Regions from separate parts of the Homo sapiens genome. Here region 2 is linked to region 1. A link means that fine-mapping ties the variant in region 1 to the expression of a gene that starts in the linked region. Tissue or cell type: pancreas. Region 1 holds a variant in brackets; the other region holds the start of a gene. All regions are shown on one strand. Distances are between the middles of the regions.

What was found. PIP is the estimated chance that this variant, and not a neighbour inherited with it, causes the effect.
Region 2: DEFB134 starts here. The variant in region 1 is the best candidate, but not a certain one, in a credible set for the expression of DEFB134 in pancreas (GTEx, PIP 0.68).

What each region holds. Positions count from the first base shown.
Region 1 is chr8:12,027,175-12,031,340 of GRCh38, forward strand. It overlaps the pseudogene OR7E160P. Among named protein-coding and RNA genes, the nearest start is that of DEFB134, 29 kb to the left of the region's middle. RefSeq lists an enhancer at 4,080-4,166. The variant G/A (reference allele first, on the strand shown) is at 1,707.
Region 2 is chr8:11,998,797-12,002,962 of GRCh38, forward strand. DEFB134 (defensin beta 134) reads right to left here and starts at 1,956. Exons shown (of 3, transcript NM_001302695.2): 1 at 1,912-1,956. LOC105379245 (a long non-coding RNA gene) reads left to right here and starts at 3,337. Exons shown (of 3, transcript XR_001745644.2): 1 at 3,337-3,411. It also overlaps the pseudogene OR7E160P and the pseudogene LOC100421446.

The DNA.
Region 1 (4,166 bases):
TAAAATCATCCTGAAATGTGCACTAATAACATGGAGACTAAGCAGATGAAATGAAATATGCTGCATACAGCAAAGAACTCAGAGCCTGGCCTTTAGGAAGCCCTCAGTAAGGGTTCATGATGCCATGGTGTCTGTCGTCATCCTCTTTATCCTCATCATCACCTTCATAATCTTTTTGTTGTTCTTAGGGAATAGTTTAGAGGGACTGATTCCCTGCTATCATGGGTGAGATATCTATGAAAAGGACAACCAGTGGGGGAGGAAAGCAAAATTTTGAATAAGATTTCTGAGACCCCCACCACAACCAAGAACAGAAACTCCACAGTCTGCTGAGCAGAGAGTTGCATATTGGTCTCCTCCCATCTACCCACCGCACTCTCCTGTTTGTCTTGAGAATGAGGAAACAAACAAGGCTCCCGACCGTCCCTCAGCACTCACTTGAAGGGGTGGCCTGCCCCTCCACACCTGTGGGTATTTCTAGTCGTGTGGGATGAGAGACTGAGAAAAGAAATAAGACACAGAGACAAAGTATAGAGAAACAACGGTGAGCCCAGGGGACCGGCACTCAGCATACCAAGGACCTGCACCGGCACCGGCCTCTGAGTTCCCTCAGTTTTTACTGATTATTATTTTTATTATTTTAGCAAAAAGGAATGTAGTAGGAGGGCAGGATGATAAAAAGGAGAAGGTCAGCAATGAACATGTGAGCAATAGAATCTATGTCATAATGAAGTTCAAGGGAAGGTACTATGACTGGACATGTATGTAAGCCAGATTTATGTTTCTCTCCACCCAAACATCTCAGTGGAGTAAAGAATAAGAAGGCAGCATTGCTGCAAACATGTCTCGCCTCCCACCATAGGGCGGTTTTTCTCCCATCTCAGAATTGAACAAATGTACAATCGGGTTTTATATCGAGACATTCAGTTCCCAGTGGCAGGCAGGAGACAGCGGCCTTCCTCTCTCTCAACTGCAAGAGTCTTTCCTCTTTGACTAATCCACCTCAGCACAGACGATCTATGGGGGTTGAGCTGGGGGATGGTCAGTTCTTTCTCCTCCCATGAGGCCACTTATCAGACTATCACATGAGGAGAAACCTTGGACAATACGCCTCTTTCAAGGGCAGAGGTCCCTGCGACTTTCCACAGAGTATCTTGCTCCTGGTTTATTGAGACTAGAGAATCGCTATGACTTTTACCAAGTATACTGCTTGGAAACATCTTGTTAACCAGGCACGTCCTGCATAGCCCTAGATCCCTTAAACCTTGATTTCATACAACACATACTTTTGTGAGCTTCAGGTTGGGTCAAAGTGGTTGGTTCAAAGTGACTGGGGCAAAGCTACAGATTAACAACATCTCAGCAAAGCAATTGTTGAAAGTACAGGTCTTTCTCAAAATGGAGTCTCTTATGTCTTTCCTTTCTACATAGACAGAGTAAGTGTCTGATCTCACTTTCTTTTGCCTACATTCACTGAACTGCTCTTCCCCTCTGCTGGGCCACGACCATGGAGAACAGGTTCAACTGTCCTCCCTGCTTGGTGCACCATGGAGGCTCAGACTCCGTCCTCAAGGCTGGCAAGAAGACAGGGTGAGTCATCAGCCCCCTGATACAGGTGACGGGAGTGGAGCCCACAGGACTGCAACCTCACATTGCAGGGCTGGAGGCACAGACTATTTACTATTCTGTGGGCTGGGGGGCTCAAG[G/A]CCCAGAGCTCCTCATTAGCCAAAGTCGCCCAAGTTCCCCAACCTCTAAGGATTTCCTCATAATATTGCAAGAAGAAGAAGAGAAAAGTGAGTGTCCATAGAAGCTTTGGGGCTCTTCCTCTAATCAGGAGAAAGCTGGTGGGTATTCTTCACTTCTTTCTTTACTTTTTAAACATCCAACTGCTTTAATTTTCATCTTTTAATATGGGAAAATATACCACGTATAAATATTAAAAATTATAAATACATATTAGTTCATAGAGAATAGTCTGTATAAATATTTACAGTTTCCACTCTTTTTCAGTTTACAGTTTAACGACATTAAGTAAGTTCACATTGTTTAGCAACCGTCGCCGCCATCGTCTCCGGAACAGTTTTATCTTTCAAAATGGAAATTCCACCCATTCACCAAGCTCTCCATTCCTTTCTCTCGCCCACCCCTGGAGGCCACCTTTCTAGTTTGCAACTCTATGAGTTTAACTACTCTAGACACTTGATAGATAAGCGGAATCATACCTTGTTTAATTTTTTTGTTTTGGAGACAGTCTTTCTCTGTCACCCAGGCTGGAGTGCAGTGGCGTAGTCTGGGCTGACTGCAACCTCCACATCGTGGGTTCAAGCGATTCTTGTGTCTCAGTCTCCCGAGAGGCTGGGATTACAGGCGTGCGCCACCACGCCCTGCTAATTTTTGGATTTTTAATAGAGACGAGCTTTCACCATATTGGCCAGGCTTGTCTCGAACTCCTGACCTGAAGTGATCCGCCTGGCTCAGCCTCCCTAAGTGCTGGGGTTACAGTTGCGAGCCACTGAGCCTGGGCCTGTTTATCCTTTTGGGATTTATTTATTTCACTGACGATAATGTTTTCAAGGTTCATCCATGTTGCGGCCTGCGTCAGAAGTGCCTGTCTGTTTTTTGTTTGTTTGTGTTTTGTTTGTTCGTTTGACTTTGCTTTGTTTTGTGTTCCCATGGAGTCTCACTCTGTCGCACAGGCTGGAGTGCAGTGGCACAATCTGGGCTTACTGCAACCTCCGCTTCCCGGGTTCCAGCGATTCTTGTGCCTCAGCCTACTGAGTAGCTGGGACTATAGGCACACGCCACCACGCTCATTTAATTTTTTGCATTTTCAGTAGAGACAGGGTTTCACCAAGATGGCCAGGCTGGTCTTGAATTCCTGACCTCAGGTGATCCACCCACCTCGGTCTTCCAAGACGCTGCGATTACAGGCGTGAGCAACCACACCGGCCAGAAGTGCCTGCCTTTTGAAGGCTGAATTGTCTTCCATTGTATGAAGGAACTGCAGTGTGCTTTTTCATTCATCTGTCTACGAACCCTTGGGTTGCTTCCACATTTTGGCTGTTGTGAATAATGGTGCTATGAATATGGGTGTACACAAATCTGTCTTCCACTCCTGGCTTCTAATTCTTTTTGGCAGGTACCCACAAATGCAACTGTGGGAACATCTGATCATTCTGTTTCTAATTTTTCCAGTAGACGCCATACTATTTTCCCGGTTCCTTCATGGTTTTACATTCCCTCCGATCACATTCGAGCATTCCTACTTCCCTCTGTTCTAACCAATACCTGTTTGTTTATCATATCCATCCTAATGTGTGGTGTCACATTCTTGGTTTGATTTGCGCTTCCCTATGATGAGTGACTTTGAACATCATTTTAGATGCTTATTGGCCATTACGATATCTTCTTTAGGGACACGTCTACTCGAGTCTTCTGACCATTGTTGATGGGATGCTTTGGGTTTCTTGTTGTTTAGTTCTAGCTGTTCTTCATATATGATGGATATCAGCCTCTTTTCAGATATATGCTTTGCAAATATTTTTCCTAATCCATGGGTTATCTTTTCTCTGAATTTGCAGTGTTTTTTGCTGCACAAAAGTGTCTGTCATTTAGATGTAATCCAAGGAATCTAATTTTCTTTTGTTGCCTATGCTTTTGGTGTCATACCCAGAGAACGTTGCCCAATCTGATGTCATGAAAGTGTGGCCAATGTTTTCTTTTAGGCTTATGATACTTTTAGTCCTTGGGGTTAGGTCTTTGATCCAGTTTGTGTTAATTTTTGCACGTGGTGTGACACAGGGTCCACCTTCATTCTTCTGCATGTGGAAATCAAGTTTCTCCAACACCATTTCTTGAAAAGGCTGCTTTTCCACCAATGAGCTTTCTTAGAACTCATGTGAAAAATCATTTGAACATACAGGTGAGAAGTTATTTCTGGGCTCCAAAGCAAACAAACAAACAACAACAGACACCAGATAAGGATACAGCACGGGCCGGGCGCGGTCGCTCATGCCTGTAATCCCGGCACTTTGGTAGGCCGAGGCGGGCAGATCACCTGAGGTCAGGAGTTGAAGACCAGCCTGACTGACAGGGAGAAACCCGCGTCTCTACTAGAAATAAAACATTAGCTGGGCATGCTGGCACATGCCTGTAATCCCAGCTAC
Region 2 (4,166 bases), 28 kb before region 1:
AGCTAGACTAAAAAAAGAAGATCCAAAAAAACACAATCAGAAACGAGAAAGAGGATATTACCACTGACCCCAAAGAAATGCAAAAAACCCTCAGAGACTATTAGGAGCATCTGCATGCACACATGCTACAAAGCCTAGAAGAAACTGATAAATGCCTGGAAAAGTACAACCTCCCAAGGTTGAACTGGAAAGAAATTGAATGCCTGAGCAAACCAATAATGAGATCTGAAATAGAATCAGTAGTAAAAAACCTACCAAACAGAAAAAGCCCAAGGCAGGAACCTATCATTTCTACCTTAGGTTCCTACCTTGGTCTCAAGTGAGCCCCAGCTGGAAGTTCATACTAAAATTGACACAAGGGGTGCCTGGTCATATCATGTCCAATTTCTTAGCAACCAGCCAGTGAGGGCGTGGGTTCATGAAAAGCAGGTATGGGAGTATAAAGGTCATAAACAGTATAAAGAATTACTGGCTGAGGCTCCCAAAGAAGCCAGCAATCACTCTGAGAAAAAAAGACCTGGAAACCTCAACCTCAGAGAGGACATGCTCAGTGGGATACTGGCATTGCCCATGCAAAGAAAGTGTTGAATATGACTCAAGGAGAAATAATAAAGCAATATACTTTTATCTATGTTGATAAACAGCTGGAAGAGGCTTTAACCCAAGCAAAAATAATGTTGCTTACAAAGCCAAAGTTAAAAAACCCCAAGACCATTACAGTGCCAAATTCTTTTCCCCAGAACGGACTATTACTATCATTCTCCCACTATTGATAAGGAGCTCGTTCACTGACTAGGTCACCAACTACCAGCAATTCGTGATTTTACTTAAATATCAGAACAGGACAGCCTCTGAGTTTTGCTCTAAAAGGTAAAGAAGAATTTCAGCAACTGTCAGAGATCGTCTCTTGTTATCTAGACCTCCCCTGGCTCAGCGTCTGGTTCACTGTAGGTGCCACGAGTTGGGAGCTGACCTAGTTCATAGACTTTAGAGATAAAGAGGGGAGATGTGCGCATCATTTGAAAACAAGTATGTGGCTTACCAGCACACCAGCTTTTTCTTTTCATCCATATATTCCCCTAAGGCCACATGGTGCTCTGGGATTAGAAAATGGAGAAGTACAATATGCTCCACGCTAGGACTAGATGGCTCTTTCTTCTGCCTCCTGGGTTTGGTATTTCTTTAGGGTCATCATGCTACTCTTCTCATCTTCCTGATCTGTGGTTGTTCTGCAACTGCCATACTCTCAGCTGCAATTGAAATGTCCCTGTCTGACCCTGAGCCATACAGATTCAATATGCAGCCTTTCCAAATGACAATCCTAATAAACAGAAATGTATTCTAGCCAACAGTGGGAGATGCAGAAGGAAGCAGCTTCTGTATCCTCTGTGAAGAGATGGTCCTCTTTCCCATTACAAATTTTACAGCACCCATTCCTTTTTTTTTCATAGCACTTGTCACAATTGTTACTATATCAATTATTTGTGTCTCTGATTAGACTGTGAAATCCGAGTAGATTCCATGACTGTCTTATTTATCATTTTACACCAGTATTGGGCTGAAAGTCTAGCAGGCCATCAGTGCCAAAGGTATATTTGTTGAATAAATAAATGAACTCTAGATATTAGGTTTATACTTTAACTTTACAATATATAGTAGTTATTCCTTATTCATGGGGCTATGTTCCAAGACCCCCAGTAGATGCTTGAAACAGTCGATAATACTGAACTCTATATATACAGTGCTTTTTTTCTATACATGCAGACCTATGATAAAGTTAAATTTATAAATTTGGCACAGTAAGATTTTAATAACAATAACTAATAATAAAACAATTATAACAATATGCTATCATAACAATACTATAAAAGTTATGTGAATGTGAACTCTGTCTCCCCCAAAATATCTTACTGTGCTATGCTCACTCTTCTTCTTGTGCTGATGTAAGATGATATAATGCCTATGTGATGAGAGGAAGTGAGGAAAACGACATAGGCATTGTGACATAGCATTAGGCTATTGCTAATCTTCTGACCATAGCTCAGAAGGGGGATCATCTCCTTCGGGTGATGCTGGGTCACTGAGCCATGGTGATGTTAGTGGCTGGATCTCAGAAGCATATGATTTCAATAACTAATGGGCAGGTAGTGTTTACAGTGTGGATACACTGGACAAAGGGATGATTCACATTCTGGGTGTGTGGAGCTGCGTAGTGCAAGATTTTGTGTTACTCAGAACAGCATGCAATTTAAAACTTATGAATTGTTTATTTATGGAATTTTGTGTTTATTTATTTATTTATTTTGAGATGGAGGCTTGCTCTGTCACCCAGGCTGGAGTGCAGTGGCGTGATCTTGGCTCACTGCAACCTCTGCCTCCCAGGTTCAAGTGATTCTCCTGCCTCAGCCTCCTGAGTAGCTGAGATTACAGGCACCTGCCACCACACCTGGCTGATTTTAGTATTTTTAGTAGAGACGGGGTTTCACCATGTTGGCCAGGCTGGTCTCGAACCCCTGCCCTCAGGTGATCCACCCACCTTGGTCTCCCAAAGCGCTGGGATTACAGGCATGAGCCACTGCACCCAGCGTATTTAATATTTTGGACTGTGGTTGACTGTAAGTAACTAGAACTGTGGCTGGGTGGGGAACTACTGCAGATATATTCCTAACAGCTGGTATTTGGAGCACTTTTAGGCATCAAGGATTGTAGTATGTATTTTTTTTAATATTGCCTCACTTAATCTTACAAATGATCTCTTAACTAGACATTTTCACAATTCACATTTTCAAGATGTTGAAGCAGAGATTTGAGTAATTCTTCTAAAATCACACATCTGGGACTGATAAGTCTTACAGAGATTCTAGAACCCAAATTAATTAACCACTCTTCTATATTGTCTCCTGGGACAAAGGGGTTCTGAAATATAGCAAAAATTCTACTTTGAATCTAGTCTGGGCCAGCCAGGAAGAATTAGTAGATGCCAGGGCCTGGGGAGCTAGAACCTATGGTAAGGAAGTGACACTGAAAAAGCTAAAGAATCTTTCTTTCTTTCTCTCTCTCTTTCTTTTTCTTTCTTTCTTTCTCTCTCTCTTTCTTTTTCTTTCTCTTTCTTTCTTTCTTTCTTTCTTTCTTTCTTTCTTTCTTTCTTTCTTTCTTTCTTTCTTTCTCTCTCTCTCTCTCTTTCTTTTCTTTCTTTCTTTTCTTTCACAGACGTCTTGGGACGCAAAGGGCCAAGGCATCAGAAACACTTGGTACCAGCTTCCACAGCAACAATGAGAGGTAACCCCAGTGCTTCCACTACCAACAGGACATTACCACTTGCAGGCAGAGAAACAGACAAGAAAAATAGTGGATGCCACATATTAGGACTCGTCTGAGACATGATGCAAGACTTTTTAGAAAGAATTTGAGGTGAGATGAGGCTGGGCTCTCTGAAGTAGTTCAAGAGAAATACTATTTTGTGGCCCTTATTGGGACTTACTTATAACCTAAGGACCTAGGATGATGCTTGAGTAGCAGGACCAACCAATGTACCAAAGAATGGGCCTCACCCAAAGAGCTTTACAAATTTTATTAAAAATAAGAATGAGACAGAACTCAGCAGTTGTACCTAGATTAGTGACAGAAGATCAGATGAGAATGAAGATGTTTTAGTAGGTTAACATAATAAACGCTCTCCGAGATACCTCATCACTGCTTACCTCTTTTGGAACTTAAAAATAACTTGGAGAAGATATGATCAACTATGAATTGACTAAGTTTCAGTTTCTGTGACCAGGCAAAATAAGGTTCCTAATAGGAATTCAGTTAATTTATAGAAAAAGAAAATTATACTTTTGTAAATATGCCTAGTAGACTGACATATCCCTTACATGACTAAAACCCTATTATGCCAAAACATCTCTTTATTGAATCTCCCCACATTCCCAACCTACTTTCTCTTCTTGCCTCTCTAGTTTAGTGAGTTATATTGGCATCCATCTTTTTATCAGCTTTGAAATCTCAGAATCATCATTCATGGCTTCTCAATATATCATATGGCCAATAAATCCTGCCAATCCTAATTCTAAAATTCACCTTGTATCTCTTCTTTCTTTTTAGTTCTCACTACTAGTGATCAAGTCCTAGATTACTGGAATAGAATAATGTTGCATCAATAGATTGTG